Linked DNA regions of Homo sapiens. The protein of the gene in region 1 purifies or fractionates together with the protein of each later gene. This does not show direct contact. Each region holds a gene or a part of one and is shown in the gene's direction. Other genes may lie near its edges. The genes, in order: KEL and SLC16A10.

The links.
Region 2: the proteins of KEL (region 1) and SLC16A10 purify together in Homo sapiens (affinity purification with mass spectrometry; one large-scale study listed by BioGRID and IntAct). This does not show direct contact.

The regions. Positions count from the first base shown.
Region 1 is NC_000007.14:142,942,722-142,945,422, reverse strand, and holds part of KEL (kell blood group glycoprotein), read left to right. Parts: intron 1-681; coding exon 682-780; intron 781-1,022; coding exon 1,023-1,100; intron 1,101-1,539; coding exon 1,540-1,640; intron 1,641-1,826; coding exon 1,827-1,937; intron 1,938-2,079; coding exon 2,080-2,147; intron 2,148-2,378; coding exon 2,379-2,548; intron 2,549-2,701. UniProt on the Homo sapiens protein: Zinc endopeptidase with endothelin-3-converting enzyme activity. Cleaves EDN1, EDN2 and EDN3, with a marked preference for EDN3.
Region 2 is NC_000006.12:111,219,956-111,223,781, forward strand, and holds part of SLC16A10 (monocarboxylate transporter 10), read left to right. Parts: intron 1-2,047; coding exon 2,048-2,280; 3' UTR 2,281-3,826. UniProt on the Homo sapiens protein: Sodium- and proton-independent thyroid hormones and aromatic acids transporter.

The DNA.
Region 1 (2,701 bases):
TGATCCTGATTTTATACAAGAGGGAACTGAAGCAAAGAGAGGTTAAGTGACTTGCCCAAAGTCACACAGTTACCAAAAAGCAGAGACAGGGTTTGAACTCAGGCATTCTGATGCCAGAGCCCAGGCTCTCGATATTGCCTTTCATTTTCCTCCAGGAAAGGATTTACATGAGATGGCAGGTGGCTGGGGAAGCAGTGAGTACACACTCACGTTGTGAAGGCAGGGAGACTTGTGGGGGACTTGCTGGGAAGCTGAAGAGCTCAGGAGGATGAGGAGAGGGAGTGGACGGTTTAAAAAAGACAGTGTGAGAACAAGAGCCCTGAGCCAGAGGAGAAAATGACAGCCCTCTCCTCCCTCTGATTTCTGAGAGGTGTTCCTGCCCCCAGGAGTGAGGACACTGTCTTTCTCCTGTGTCAGGCTATTTCCCCATGGAAAGGAACTATATCTCCCTGATGGCCCTCACGGATGGCCAGGCCCCACCTTCCCTTTGTGGGCTTGGCACTGCCTTCCTTTCTCCACAGATCCTTTAGTTGCTTTAGTTGAGCTGCTCCTCTAGCAGCAGCTCCAGCCCAGGCAGCTCCTTGGGGCCAAGCCCTTTTCCAAGGGTCAGAAGCTGTGGGCAGGGCCAGGCTGAGGCCTCTCCTGATCCTGTCCCCCTGTCCCTGGACCTCACTCCCACAGGCCATGAAATTATTCACTGCGATCCGGGATGCCCTCATCACTCGCCTCAGAAACCTTCCCTGGATGAATGAGGAGACCCAGAACATGGCCCAGGACAAGGTCAGGCCAGGCGTCCTGGCTGGTGTGGGAGCCTGTGCAGGGAATGGAGTATTGGAACAAGCGAGATGGGGATTGGAAGCAAATGCCAAAGGCCCCCCCAGGCACATGCTAAGTAGGGAAGCCACTGGGCTGTATACTCACACTGGCAACAATGTGAGAGGCTGGGACAGGGCAACGAGTGGGAGAAATTTCCTCTGGTAGACTCGGAGAGTATTCCTAGCCTCTTCTGTGTCTCTCTCCAGGTTGCTCAACTGCAGGTGGAGATGGGGGCTTCAGAATGGGCCCTGAAGCCAGAGCTGGCCCGACAAGAATACAACGATGTGGGTCCCTGTGTTTTCCAGCTCCTTTTCAGTCCTTGACTTCTCGTCACTTCTCTGACCCTCCTAAGTCTTTGTTGGACAATCAGTTTTCCCTGGGTGACTTAGCTCTGTCCTTACTCTGGTGCTGGCTGGGGTTGATGGGGAAATATCCACACTGTACGTCTTGCTGGCAGAAGAACAGAATCTTTTCAGGTCCCAACGCATGTGCCAACACACATGCATGCATCCTGTGACTTGTCTGGGCGTGTTCATCTGTGTGCTGATATGTGTAAAGCCTGGGTGTGCTGTGTAGTGATGCCATTGGGCTGCTCTCTCCTAATCCCTGGATGCCTGCCTGTCAGGGCTTGCCTGTTTGGGGTCAAATGGTCCCATTGGTGTTTGTCAGCGTGCATCTATAGAAGTCTCTGTGTGCCCAAGTCACCTCCTGCCTCTTCCCCAGATACAGCTTGGATCGAGCTTCCTGCAGTCTGTCCTGAGCTGTGTCCGGTCCCTCCGAGCTAGAATTGTCCAGAGCTTCTTGCAGCCTCACCCCCAACACAGGTATGACAGCAGGGGAGACACAGGCACTCCATCCCAGAGAGACCCATCCATGATTCACAGGAAAGGAAGCCAGGGCTCAGGGCAGGCAGCATGAACAGTAATGGTAGTTGGGAGGGACTGTGTAGGTCTCAGGGTGGCAGGGCAATACGTGGTGGGGGCTGGAGTTCACATGTCCTCTTCCCACAGGTGGAAGGTGTCCCCTTGGGACGTCAATGCTTACTATTCGGTATCTGACCATGTGGTAGTCTTTCCAGCTGGACTCCTCCAACCCCCATTCTTCCACCCTGGCTATCCCAGGTATGGGTCACTCTGTAAGGGTAGGTAGGGAGTTTCCCAAGAGGGGCCGACAGGTGTTATGATGGATGGGACTTACGGTTGGAGAATTGGGGTCACAAATGCTGAGAGATTCTGGGGGTCAAATAAGCCCTTGTCTCCCTAGAGCCGTGAACTTTGGCGCTGCTGGCAGCATCATGGCCCACGAGCTGTTGCACATCTTCTACCAGCTCTGTGGGTAACAGGGGCCACTGGGAGGTGGGATAATAGGGAACCTAAGGGAAGACCACAAGGGAGGCCTGGAGGGGAAAGGGAGGTTATTTGAGGGTTTGAGGTGGGGCAGTCCTGGGAACTTTGCCATGCTCCTGGGAGCTGATTCAGTCTGTGGTACCACCCACATCCTCACCTAGGCAGCACCAACCCTATGTTCTCTTGCTGTATGTTCTCTTGTCCCATTTTCAACAGTACTGCCTGGGGGCTGCCTCGCCTGTGACAACCATGCCCTCCAGGAAGCTCACCTGTGCCTGAAGCGCCATTATGCTGCCTTTCCATTACCTAGCAGAACCTCCTTCAATGACTCCCTCACATTCTTAGAGAATGCTGCAGACGTTGGGGGGCTAGCCATCGCGCTGCAGGTATGCAAGTGTCAAGGGCCACAGTTTATGTGTACTGGCAGACTAGAAAACATGTCCTCAAGTTTTCCTTCCACCATTCCTGACACAAGTACAGTTGCATGGCTTTCTGCCCTTCGCATCCCCACTGAATAGACGGCAACTTGGGGATCCCCC
Region 2 (3,826 bases), on another chromosome or scaffold:
TAATATTAGTGTAGTCCCACCTACTCCAGAGGCGGAGGCGAGAGGATCTATTGCGCCTGGGAGATCAAGGCTGCAGAGCCGTGATAGCACCACTGCACTCCAGCCTGGGTGACAGAGTGAGACCCTGTCTCAAAATAAAAGGTCATATATCGTATGATTTATTTCATGTGAAATATCCAAAATAGGTAAATTCATACAGATAGAAAACTGGTGACTGCCAGGGGCTGGAGAGAAAGGGATTGGGAAGTAACTACTTAATTGGAATGAAGTGTCCTTTTGGCATGATGAAAATATTTTGGAACTAAATAGAAGCAGTGGGTGCAAAACATTGTGTATGTGCTAAATGCCACTGAATTGTTCACTTTCAAATGGTTAATTCTATTTCATGTGAATTCCACCTCTAGAAATTCTCTGAATGATATTATAAAGATGTCCTATGTTCAGTATTACTTGGGTGCCTGTGTCAATTAGTATTAGAAGATTCAGTATAAATATGATAAAATTTAAATGTGTGTACTGTCATCTGTGTTTGGCACATGAGGTGCTCAGTGAAGGTTTAGCTCAATTCATTCTCATACCCTGAACTGTATTCCTAGTCATGAATCAAGCAAGCAGAGTTACTACTGAGCAGACCAAATCCAGTTTAAGTTCAAAAGGTCATGGTCTCCTTATAGGAGAACCCTCCATTCCTTCTTCTCTCCCGCAGGTAATATAGTATTCACTCTTCTTTCTATAGCCTACAAGCTTAGTTTTATAGTTTCTAAGTCCACAGCAGATTTTATATAAGCAGCACTCTAGTAGTAAATAGTTTTGCTACCAGAAGTGACAGTTAACAGAGCAAGAATAAGGGAGGTAACAGGAAACTTCTAAAGCAGGCAGAACACCACCACACAGCAACTGGCAGCAGAAAGCTGCTGGCTCACCAGGAGGCTCTGAGGGCATCATAGTATTACAGCAGAACATAATCATGAGTGTTCATAAGGAGGAAGAGTTCAGGAATGGTCTGATTCCAAAGATAGAAAACTTGTGCATTTACAGATATTGTCTATTTTATATATGCAGAATGGATGTACACATTTTTATGTGTTGGTACTTAATTGGACAAATGGTCAGCTATTTATTTAACAATGTCAGATAGATATTTAGTACAGTATATTCCCTGGACATTTTAGATAACTTAGGTTTTATAGTATAAGTTATAAGAGTTTAAAAACACTAAGATAACTTTTAAAACCATGAGTCCTGGAATTTGTTAGAGAAATTAGAAATGTTGAGTACCGTAAAAGTTTTCAGAAGCAGAACCCGAATATAGAATGCCATTAATAATTCTTATATACTTACATTTTCTTCCAGGTACTTATAAACCTTAGTCTATTTCCAAAATGTATTTAACAACCTAACTTTCATCCAAATTATTAAATTTAAAATTTTTCTTAATTTTGAATTATGATGTTAAATAGTTTTCATGTTATTTCATAAAAAACAAATACACCAAAGAGTAGTTTGAAAGCTGGGCATGGTGGCTCATGCCTGTAATCTCAGCATTTTGGGAGGCTGAGGTGGGAGGATTGCTTTAGCCTAGGAGCTTGAGACCAGCCTGGGTAATGTGACAAAACCCCATCTCTACAAAAAATATAAAAATTAGCCAGGCATGGTAGCATGCACCTGTAGTCCCAGCTACTCAAGAGGCTGAGCTGGGAGGATCAATTGAGCTTGGGAAGTCAAGGCCTGCATGAGCCATGATTATGCTACCGCACTCCAGCCTGGGTGACACAGTGAGACCCTGTCTCAAAAAAAAAAAAACGTCTACCTTTCTATCTTTTCAAGTAATGTCTTGGTATGAAAATCCAGAGGACTGTACTTTATGACAACGTTAAAGATATGAGATCTTTTTCTTCCTATCAAAAAGGGTTTATATTTCAGATCTGTTTCCTAAAAAAAAAAAAAAGTCTGATGTCTGAGATGTCTGAATCAGTCCTGTGGCTGATCTAGACCCCCTACAGAGCCACACTTGTTCTCCCTTGGTGACAGCTTTTTCCCTTCTCAGGGTTACTTCGTGACAAACTGGGCTCCTATGATGTGGCATTCTACCTCGCTGGAGTCCCTCCCCTTATTGGAGGTGCTGTGCTTTGTTTTATCCCGTGGATCCATAGTAAGAAGCAAAGAGAGATCAGTAAAACCACTGGAAAAGAAAAGATGGAGAAAATGTTGGAAAACCAGAACTCTCTGCTGTCAAGTTCATCTGGAATGTTCAAGAAAGAATCTGACTCTATTATTTAATATCTTACATACCTCCACCAGACTGGACTTGCTTTTTGAATTTTAAGCAAGTTTCCTTTCCTTTTATACAAATTGCAAATTTCATATTTTTTTAATCACATCCTAGGAATAGCACAATAATTGGGAAATAGAACCCTTATCACTAGAAGAACCATTTTCTGCCACTAAATATCTCTGATGTTTCCATGAGTCTGAGGGCAGAGACTCTGGTATATGAAAACGTCTGAAAGTCACATATTGTGAAAATTTGAAGCTATCTCAGTAAAAAGCAGCTTTGGAAACTGTGAATGATCTTTAGCTTGTACAAATGTTTAAAAATACCTCAGGCTATACTGAAAGGGTTGCAGTTTGGTTAGGAGTGGAAATATTTTGTTTGTTAATGATGTCTTCAGTTCTGGTACCTCTGTTTTACTTTCTTATGCTCTTTGGAAACTTTTTGCAAAATTTAAGCCTGGGTTCTAGATAATACCAGATCTACCTAAACCTCAAGTCTATGTTAAAGTTGCTTTCCTGCTGTTAAATAAGCTATGATATTAAGATATTCTGACTTGCTCCAGTGTCAAGGGACCTTCTGGGAGCAGGTGCTAACATAGTGTTCAGAATCAATATGTGAGATGAAAAGGATCCCCTCCAGGAGGATCCTGAGCTGTTCAGAAATCATTTAAGTTTACAGCGTTGTTCCCTTTGCGTTTGCAGTGCGTTTTACTCAAGTAGCCAGAAACACCCCACGTTTCTGAATTTGTTTAAACTGTAACAATAAAGTAAAATAGAATGCATGAAAGATATTCTGGCGATTGTAACTTAGAATTTTTCTGACTTCTGGATTTGTTGGCACTAGAACCTGATATTTAAAGTCTTACTGAGCAGCTATCAAGTGGCAGTTACAGGCACAAATTGGTGGAGGCTGGAGGATGGGGAGGGGAGCAAAACCCTTTATATTTGTGAAGAAAATATCTGTAGCTGATAGAAATAATTGCTTAAATTGGTTTATGAAATTAATGAGTCTGAAAAGGTTAAAAGCACTTATAAAAAGAACCAAGTCCTACATTTCCAGAACTTTCTGGCAAAAATTTGCACTCATATTATTTATCCTATGAACATTCCCATTGTTTTTTTTTGCTATTTATATACAGATTATCATAAGAAAGCTCTCAGTTTGAGGACCCAAAATAAAACCAAAGTCATGCCATGACCCATACTCATTTACAAAAACAAGAACACTTTCCTCTATCCCTAAAATTATGCTTTAGTACTTGAGGCCTTTAAAAGTTAGTGCTTTTGATTGTGAAGACATTCAGCAACTTACTTTGTCATACATGCAGTTGCACCTTACCACTTCTAATAGTGTCATATTTCATATTCAGGGGACTTAGATAATTTGCCTGTGGATGGTTCTTTTGCAGGAAAAAAAATCTACATTTTGACCATACTACCCTTTCATGTCCTTATTATAAGCTTTTAGAAAATGATTTCATTCAGTCATGTCCAGTTATATAAAACGTTACTTTCTCATTTTTGAGAAGTTCAACAAAACATACTACTAAGA